Regions from separate parts of the Homo sapiens genome. Here region 1 is linked to region 2. The links come from fine-mapping of genetic effects on gene expression. Tissue or cell type: lung. Region 2 holds a variant in brackets; the other region holds the start of a gene. All regions are shown on one strand. Distances are between the middles of the regions.

Region 1 (5,000 bases), 170 kb after region 2:
GCTTTAAAAAAATGGTATAATAAAGCCCTACTACCGTCATCAGATTTCAATGGCTTCCTACTGTGAAATGCAAAAACAAATCAGAGAAAAGCCTAACCATTTTTAATCTATAAAGGATAAGATTAGGTACAATTACTTACTTTCTTTTAAAAAAAAGAACTGAACAATTTGTGAATGTGTCTTTCAGCCATTTACAACAGACTGCTGGGTTTTTTTTTGTTTGTTTTTCGTTTTTTTTTTAAACAGGGTCTTGCTCTGTTGCCCAGACTGAAGTGCAGTGGCACGATCATGGCTCACTGCTGCCCCGACCCTCTTGACTCAAGCAATCCTCCCACCTCAGCCTCCCGAGTAGCTGGGACTACACACCACCATGCCTGGCTAATTTTTGTAATTTTTGTAGAGATAGGGTTTTGCTATGTTGCCCAGGCTCGTCTCGAACTCCTGGGCTCAAACAATCGCCCCACCTTGGCCTCCCAAAGTGCTGGGATTACAGGTATGGGCCATTGTGCCTGGTCCACGACTAGTCTTTTTAAGATACTGACACCACTGGAGAGGAGAATGCCCACTCCAACTACATATTGGCTGTTAAAGCATCAAAGTGGAATGGTGGCTTGAGGGAAAATCATTAAAATGGAAAGGGCTAATTCTACTTCATAAAGTAAAAAAACTATTTAGATTTAGGTTCTTACATATATTTTAAAAAGGTAGGGTATTCTAGTGAAAAGTCATGAGCTATGGAGACAGAGGACTGGAGATTTATTATATTATAGATATAAGCCTGAGCACGTTACTCAAGTTGCCTGAATTTCAATTTGTTTATCAGTAAAAGTCAATCATTTAACACAAATTTATTAAGTAACAAGCAATATTCTAGGTATTGGACATACAGCAGTGAACAAATCCTTGTCAGGATGTTCCAAGCTCTGTGGTAAGAGGTACACAGAAATATACAGGGAAAAAAAAAAAAACAAATTTTATAATACAGTATGTCAAACGGTGATGCACATTATAGGGAAAAATAATGCAGGAAGGTTTCAAAGCATGGTCAGGGAAGGTCGCAATGAAAAAGAACACTTGGACAAAGACATGAAGGAAATGAGGAAGCCTGTAAATATCAGGGTTCCTCAAAAAGGAACAGCATGAGCAAAGAGGCCCTGAGATAGGAACCTGCCTGGCTTTTTGAAGACTAAGAGAGCCAGTACAGCTGATGCAGAGTCACAGAAGGGAAGGAGAGTAGTGGGAAAAATGAGGTCAAGAAAAGGTGGCTAAGGGCAGCTGGGTCAAGGTCCTGTGGGACAACCAGGCTACCGTAATGGCTGTGGCTTTTCCTCTGAATAAGATTAGAAGCCCCTGGAAAGTCTAGAATATCAGAGGTGTTTCACCCATGTATGAGAGTAAACATTTACCTCATAGAATTCTTTTGGGAAGACCAAATGCAATATGGAAGGGTTTTTAAAACTAGAAAATAATGTACAAATGTGAAACATTATTATATCCCTAATTTTGTATGTGTCATTTTTATATCAGACAACTTTGTTAAATTCTTCTTCTGCACTAAACAGTGGTAAATATTTCATAGGTTTTTTTCAATGGAAGAAAAAACAATGGTTTTTCTAGGAGCAACTCTCTCCATTTCTATTCCACTATATCTAAGAACATATGAAACTCAGTTTTTTGCTTTCAAATCAAACCATAAAACAAACATTTCAACATGAAATAAAGATGCACAATGTGAAAAACAATCTCACCCTTATTCAAAGGAGCAATGGCAGTCATGAAATGATATGTTCTTAATGAGTGTTTTCCTTTGAACTGCTAGAATGGAAATAGGAGTCTCTAGTGTTAGATAAGAGACTTTGTTATCTTGTTATCACAAGGACCAGCCAAACCAAATTTCTACCTAGTCAAACGTCTCAATTATTGGCATATATAAAATATATACAGAACAAATTTTCACTATGAAGTAAAAACAAATGAAGTATGTTGAAAATAGTAAAAATTATTGAACTAGGTAAATGACTCTTATGATACTAAACAGCCCATCATCAAGTCACTGTTTAGAGACAATGACTGCAACTGACAGCCCTGTTAACTTGTGAAGAAAAACAGTATCCAACTGAAATAACACTGGAAATGGAAACTTAAGTTATCTCCCCCAAGTTCTAGCCTCTTTTTTGGTCTGCTTCTCTTTTTTGTCTTTTTTATTTTACTTCGTCATTTCATAAAATGTGTGATTACCACTACTGCTATATGAAAATAATTCATATTCCCATCACCAATTTCTACCCTAAACTTCAGTGCCACGTTGCCAGTTGTTGACTGGATACTACCAGCAACAAATAATCCCATTTAATTTTTACTAAGCCCAACAGTTCTAAGTACTCTAACTTTGTGTATAAACTCCTCTCTCCATCTTAAACCACCCTCTGAGGACGGCCTTATTATTACCCCCATCTCACACTGGAAAGTTAAATAAGTAGCTCAAAGTAGCACATTGGGTAAGAAAAGGAACCAGCACTTGGACCCCAGGCATTTTTGCTCCAGAACGGATGCATTTAATCCCTGCTGCACCGCAACAGTGCTCCAGCTCTGTACCTAACTCCAATAGATACAAAACAAAACTCATCGTCTACTCTCTCCTAGTTCTTATTGTCCTACTTCAAGTGGAAAGCAACTTAAATTTCAGTCACCCGGCCTCTCTTCCTCCTCCCACAGGCAGTCAGTCCCTGAGGTAGCCGGGCCTGCCTTCATGCCAAAATTTCCCTGGGCAAAGGCCACAGGGATGGGGCCCGAGGAAAGGCAGCCCGAACGCGGGGGTGTGTCAGAGCGCTTTCCCTAGGTGCCCTCCCGGGGCTGGCATCCTCTCTGCTCCCCGAAACCAACTTTCGCCATCCCACCCCGCCCTGCCGCGGACCTGCCTTGCGCTATTCCAGCAGCTCCGCACCTCCACCCACTCCACTCCACCCTCCCCAAACAGCCCACCCTAGTCTCTATATCCCTGTGCCCTCAACTACCACCTGCACCCTTTACCTGCTCCTCTGCTTCCGCCATGGCGCCACGGGAGAGTCACCTGACAGACCCGGAAATAAGAGGAAACCACACACTTGGCCCAGGGCCTTCTGGGAAATGTAGTTTTAGCTTCATCTGAGCCTGGAAATCTCTTCTAGGGGACGGACCTGCTAGGGTTCATTTCTGCTGCCAATTCTCCAAACTCAATGGAATTCTGCTTTGAAGGATGTGAACATAACCATTGCTAATACTATAGCTTATTTTATTGTTGTTCTTGTTTCTCTAGTTATTCTAGTGTTTATTAAGCACTTACTATGTCATGCCCTGGGTTTATAGCTTTGCATAAATTATCTCATTTAATCCTCACAGCAATTCCTACTATCATCCCCATTTATAGGGGAGAATACCGTAGCTCAGAGGTCATGCAGCTAGTAAGAGGCAGAACTAGTAATAGAATTCAGCCCTGCCTGATGCCAAAGTCTCTGTGATTGCCAAATGCTGCTTACTCTAAAAGTGTTCTTGTCCTTTTTTCTCTCTCTTTTTTAAGTATATTCAGTGAATATAAAGCAGTCTTTGCAGTGGAGAGTCAGAGAAAATTTATACGCCAACAAATAATATCATTATTTTTGCTTGCTACTTTGTCTTCTCCTGTCATATGAACATTGATTTAAAAAAAATCTCTGTTGTTTAATAAATTAATTGTTAAACTTTTGTTGAGGATATTCAATAGGTAAATGTTCAAGTGAAGACACAATATGAAGTTGTCCTTGGTCAAAATCTGCACAACCACTGTATTACTTCCAGCCTTCAGAATGACTGATTCCTTCTCCATGTTTCTGAACATTATGAATTCTGTTTCTTAACCCTCAGGAATCTGCAGCACCTTGTCCAAAGACAGACATTTTACAATTTCCATTCACTGGAGTAGCTGGTGACCAGCAGAGGGCATTGCAAATGGCAGCATGTGGTGATTGCCTCAGTACCTTTTTTGACTCCCTGTGCCTCATTGACTCTGACCCAGTAGGAAGTCATGGACTCAGTACTCTGTCTGTAGCTTGCTCAACCCATGATTCCTCAATGGCCCAGAAGCCAAGGTGACATCATCTCTGAGACACCTGTCTTCTCCCCAGGGCCTAAACAGCCTTACCTCCATCTTCTTCCTCCAAGCCTTGCTGGGGTTCCTCTTCCAGTGGGCTAATCACTCAGCCGACAGGATAGACCACCCTGAGGCATTTAAATGTCTATAAGCAGCCAGGTGCAGTGGCTTTCACCTGTAATCCCAGCACTTTGGGAGGCCAAGGCAGTCAGATTTCATGAGCTCAAGAGTTTGAGACCATCCTGGACAACATGGCAAAACCCTGTCTCTACAAAAAATACCAAAAATTAGCCGGGCATAATGGTGTGCGCCTGTAGTTCCAGCTACTCAGGAGGCTGAGGTGGGGGTTAAGGCTGCAGTGAGCATTGATGGTGCCACTGCACTCCAGCCTGGGCAACAGAGTGAGACCCTATCTGAAAAAAAAGAAAAAAGAAAAAAGAAATCCATAAGCAAGCACCCAATGCCCTAAGTATAAACCTAGGGCAAGTATAAACCTAACCCAAGAGTTTCTAAAATCTCTTGCAAAGCAGCCCAGGGCCAAACATTGCTCATGATGAACTCCAGATCCCAGAAAAACTTTAATACAGACCAAAGAGACTGTGGAAGCCCTCAGTCGAGTATCCACGGGAAAGAGAAATAAAATGAGCTCTTCCACTTTTCTGACTTTCCTCACAAACTCCAATTTTCTCTTTTCTGTTATGAGTGACAGCCACCCATAAACCTCTAGGACTACAGCCTCTCCAACTGGGCAATCTCCTCTTCTATGCTGAATGGATGAGATTGGGATGAAGAAGGAAAATAAGGGATTATTACCACTGTCTTAACCACAAGGTCATTTTTGTTTTATGGTTCCATTTTATTTTGGTGAGAAGTCAAGCAGCCCAAGCAAGCAAAG
Region 2 (5,264 bases):
TTTGCTATTGATTTATGTATTATTTTTGCATTTGTGTTTTTAAAAAAAAGATAGGGCTATAATTTTCTCATACTGCCCTCACGTAATGCTGGTATTAGGGTTACACTAGCATTCCATAAGGAACTGAGGAACTTTTCCATTCAATTATCTGGAAAAGTAAATGTAACACAGAAGCTGCTTTTTATTTAGTTTTATTATTTTTAATTAATTTTTTTTGACAAGGTCTTGCTCTGCCACCCAGGCTGAAGTACAGTAGCATGATCAGAACTCACTGCAGCCTTGACCTCCTGCACTTAAGTGATCCTCCTGCCTCAGCCTCCCATGTAGCTGGGACCACAGGCATGAGCCATCACGCCCAGCTAATTTATGTATTTTTAGTACAGACAGGTTTTCACCATGTTGCTCAGGCTTATCTCAAACTGCTGAGCTCAAGCCATCCGTTCACCTCAGCCTCCCAAAGTGACGAGATTACAGGCATGAACCACCGTATCCAGCCAGCTATTTTTTAAAAGGATAAAACTTGTCTCTAAAACTGTCTATGGAATAAGTGCCTTTATTGTAGCTATACATTTTGACTACCAATGTAATTTAGTTAATGATTATAGGTCTATTCTATTTGCTTGAGTAAACTTTTACAACTTATTATTTTCCTAGAAAATTGTACAGTTCTTCTGAGTTTTCGAAGATATTGATATAAACTCGTATTCTTTGTTTATTTCAGGTGTTGAAAACTTAGTCTGCAAGGACTTTGTTTTTTACGGTTATGCTGGTTGTTTCCCCGTGCCTTTTTCTTAAACTTTATGGAATTTGCAAATACATTTTGTGATGTTTCCTGAAGGTTTATAGACTACAGAAGCTTATAAGCATGCAGTTTTGAAGATTATGTCCTCCTTCACACCAAAAGTAGTTTTTGTTTTCCAAAGTATGTCTAACTGGCCTTTCAAAGATCAATCATTTTTAACCCACTAAAAACTTTCTCACCTGTTTCCTCCTGTTTTACCCTGGTTTCTTATTCTCTGTGTTGGACAGCCTCTGATATCACTTTCAGAACTTAAAACTAGTTTGAAACATCTCTATGAAATATCTCTACTTGGTAAATTAAACAGCACCATTATTAACCTTTGCTTTGTAACCTATGTCTCTTATTAGAGTATCACTGACAATCGGATGGTTGTGGTAGCTCACACTTATAATCCCAGCACTTTGAGAGGCTGTGATAGGAGGATCTCTTGAGCCCAGGAGTTCAAGCCCAGCCTGGGCAACATAGTGAGACCCTGTCTCAACAAAGAATTAAAATAAAAAAAATTAGCCAGGCATAGTGGCGCATGCCTGTAGTTCCAACTACTCCAGAGGTTGAAGTGAAAGGATCACTTGAGCCCGGGAGGTCAAGGCTACAGTGAGCTGTGACTGCACCACTGCCATGCTCCAGCCTGGGCAACAAAGTAAGGCCCTGTCTCAAAACAAAACAAAAAGAATTTCACTGAGGATAAACCAGTCTTTTCTTTCCTCAACTTCATAATGGTATTAATTTTCATCTCAAAAAATACTTGTAGGCATAGCTTAGAAAGTACAATATTATCTTTCAGAGATTTATTTTCCTTACAGGACTTTCCTATATTTTTCCAAGATTATTCAAATCTAGGGGTCAATTTCTTCTTACATCCTACTCCAGGATTCTTGTTTTCTTGATATTACTTTGTTTCCTTCCATAGTTCTAAGTTTTTCTAAATTACATATTTTATCAACGTGACCTTTACTCTTCCCTTTTCGTCATTTTGAAGTCAACCAGCTATGGCTTCTATAAACAACCTGTTACATATTATATTTTGTGCTACTGTAAATTTAAATAAGAATGAATTTACAACACGACTGTTGAAAATCAACATGAGAACTTAGATTTGCCTTATCTTCCCCCTTTCTCCTTATTTCTCTGCAGTTCATCATCATTGATAATAATCCCAACCAAAAGCAAAACACCAGACCCACAGAGATTTTATAAAGCAATAAAAGAACTGTATATCAGCAAAGTTATTATGGTTCATTAGAAACAGCGGCCATGCGAAAAATGCCATCAAAAGTTGCCAAGTTTCTGAAATTTTTATTTTAAAAGATTCTTCGAACACTAAACATTTTGCTGACATTGCCTTGTTCATACTGCAATGCTTATCATTAGAACTGCAAATGACAGACAGCTACCTGGTTTTAAAAGCCCCCAATATGACACAGGGTAGACTGAGAAACTTTTCCCCTCATTTCTAATCCTTCCTTTAGGTCACAATGCTATGGGACTTGAATTCTTCTTGAAAAAGCTTTGCTTTCGGCTGGGATTCTTATAAAAATGATGAACTGCAGAGAAATACGAAGGGAAAGAGATCCTAAGGTCTTATGTTGGAGTTCAGAAACAATCTTATAAACACAATTGTATTTAAATTTCTAATAGCACAAAGTATGGATGTACCAAATTAATTTTAAAAGCTACAGCTGGTTGTCACAGGCCACCTATGTCACCTAAAAGCTGTGATAAGGCAAAACTGAAATAATTTCAAAAGGAAAACAACAAATCTCATTTGGTCTTAAAAGTTTATTTCATGAACATATAAATTCAAAAACTCTCTCTTAGAAGAAAATTAGGAGCTTATATACTGAGAGTCAAAAAGAAACCCACGTAGGCCCAAAAAAAGGTTAGTAAGAAAGAAGCCATTATTTCCTCTTATCCCATTTGGATTGCAAAATAGAGATATGGGAAATAAAGGACTATGGGGACTGCAGCAAATGCAAATTTGGGAAAATAACTTTGGAAGGCATGGAGATGTCTGAAATCAGTTTATCAGTTTGGATGAGGTATGTGTGTGTACATGTGTGTGTCTCTGTGTGTGTACATGTGTATATGTGTATGTGTGTGTGTCTGTGTGTATGGTGTGCGTAGTTTAACAAAATGGAAGTGTTAAGGCATTTTACTTCTCCCAGAAACATCAATTTAGATCATGAGCAGCATGAACAAAGGGCTGTGTCTCGCTCATCCCCAGGTCTATGAGACCAAATGGAGGCCCTGTTAGCACAGAACATACTGTCTGACACAGGAGGTACTCAT[G/A]TATCTGAATAAATGTGTTTATAAGTCATCAAGTATATGGCACTTTGAAAACAACTATTCCATGAGACATTAAGGCCTCTGACAGCCCCTCTGTTAAGAAGACACCCATCAGTGTTGCTGACTTCATCTGAGAAGGGCTGTCCTGCTACCTAGCCCCGGCCAGGGTTCAATCCAAGGGGCAGTTGGGAGGAACAGGGCAGGGGAGGGAAGGGAGTCAAGGGATGGACAATTTGTCATTTTTTTTCTTTAAATAAATGTCATTTTTGAGGCAAAAGAAAAAACCGTGAAAAATAAACCCCAATTATACCTAAAAATCTAAGCTGCTTTATTAGATCCCAAAATAAATATTAAGGCTTACATTAAAATATTAAGTTAACATTAAATATGCAGCTGTATTCAATATGTAAAGAGATATTTATAAAACGCCTCTGTTAAGAACTTTAGAAACAAAAGATATTTTAGAGATCATCTAATCTCAAGGTTCTCAAATTTCAATACATAGACTAGTGCCAGACTAGGTGTGTAAGAAATATCAAGGTGGTTTAAGGACATGCTCCCTAGTCCTTCCCAAGAGAGTCTCATTCAGCAGATCTGGGCTGGGTGCCTGAAACTATGTAACGTATACAAGAATCCAGATGATACTGGTGTGCAGCCAGACTTCACAAACACTGGCTTAATCTAACTGGGAAGCCAAGCTCCAGAAAGCTGAAGTGCCTTACCAAAGTCTCAATAGGCTTGTTAATGGCAAAGCCAGAACAGGAGCCCACGTCTGCAAATACCATGTCCACCGCTCTTTAAAAGACAACAGTTGCCTATTTGTCTTCCATGCCAATTCTGTATGTGACTCTGGCATAAACTGCCAGTACAATGAATGCATCTCCAGAGACCAAATGGGCCCAGCAGTGAGAGATACACAGGATATGATGTGGAAGACCACACAACAGCACTATGTAGATAGTCCCTTTTTATCCAGAGATAACATAAATGAAGTACCTCAAGGCACTTCACAGACACTGCTAGAATAGAAAGGAGGATGAGAATCATAATTGTAAAACTGAAAGCATGAGCACCAAAAAGTTTTGGCACATATTTGTCTTATACATGGATTAAAAACAAAAGCATTCACAAATAGTTAAACCTAATTATAGGGAGTGGCAAATCTCATCTACAAAGCTTCTATCTCAAGAAAAAGAACAGTACAGGGTGGATTTTCCCTCCCTCATCAGGTGAGTTGACCTTATTTTCAATATGCAGAGATTCCACATTCGCACCACTTTTGAAAGTTGGTGGAAAAGGAAGTTGGGCAATGCCTCCCTTAGATTGGTAGCTGGGGAGAGAATTATCTATCTTTAAAAAACTAAAATAAAAACAGGCCAGGCGCGGTGGCTCACACCTGCCATGCCAGCACTTTGGGAGGCCGAGGCAGGCGGATCATGAGGTCAGGAGATGAAGACTATCCTGGCCAACATGGATAAACTGTCTCTACTAAAAATACAAAAATTAGCTGGGTATGGTGGCACGTGTCTGTAATCCCAGCTACTCAGGAGGCTGATGCAGGAGAATTGTTTGAACTAGAGAGGTGGAGTTTGCAGTGAGCTGAGATCACGCCACTGCACTCCAGCCTGGCGACAGAGCAAGACTCCGTCTCAAAAAAATAAAAATAAAAAATAAAAACAAAACTTCATAACCCTAGTCTTGGTCATAGATACAGACAAAATAAAACATAAATCAAAAGCAAGAGTAATGGCAAGCATTACCCATGAAAAGAAAACTTAAAACTGCCAAATTGTAGGAGGCAGAGCAGCACCAAGTGCACAGGCTTGGAATCCTGGCTCTACTGCATGACATGGGCAAATCATGCAACATCTTCTAGCTTCAACTTTCTCATCTGCAAAGCAGGGGCGAGGGCCTGCTGGGAGAACCACGTGGCATGATTCTGCCAAGTGTAAAAGGATACAAATATGGGGGTCGATCACCACAATAACACAAGTCCAGAGGAGTTTCCATCACAGTGGAAACTCCTGAGTGTTGTGTCCATCTTGTAAAGGCTAAGTTTCTGTAGTGATCTTTGAAAGTTTTGTAATCCTGTGACCCAAACCAGTGCCCAAAGCTGAACATCCTGCTCCAGAGAGAAATGTAGAGAAACCTAACTAGGCAGGTGTTGGCCTAAAGG

Evidence for each region. PIP is the estimated chance that this variant, and not a neighbour inherited with it, causes the effect.
Region 1: VPS41 starts here. The variant in region 2 is fine-mapped to the expression of VPS41 in lung (TOPMed, PIP 0.94).

What each region holds. Positions count from the first base shown.
Region 1 is chr7:38,906,124-38,911,123 of GRCh38, forward strand. It overlaps VPS41 (VPS41 subunit of HOPS complex), which reads right to left and starts at 3,068. Exons shown (of 29, transcript NM_014396.4): 1 at 3,031-3,068. The coding sequence starts at 3,051. RefSeq lists an enhancer at 3,076-3,175.
Region 2 is chr7:38,732,632-38,737,895 of GRCh38, forward strand. All of the region lies in intron 25 of VPS41 (VPS41 subunit of HOPS complex), which reads right to left. Among named protein-coding and RNA genes, the nearest start is that of AMPH, 100 kb to the left of the region's middle. The variant G/A (reference allele first, on the strand shown) is at 3,092.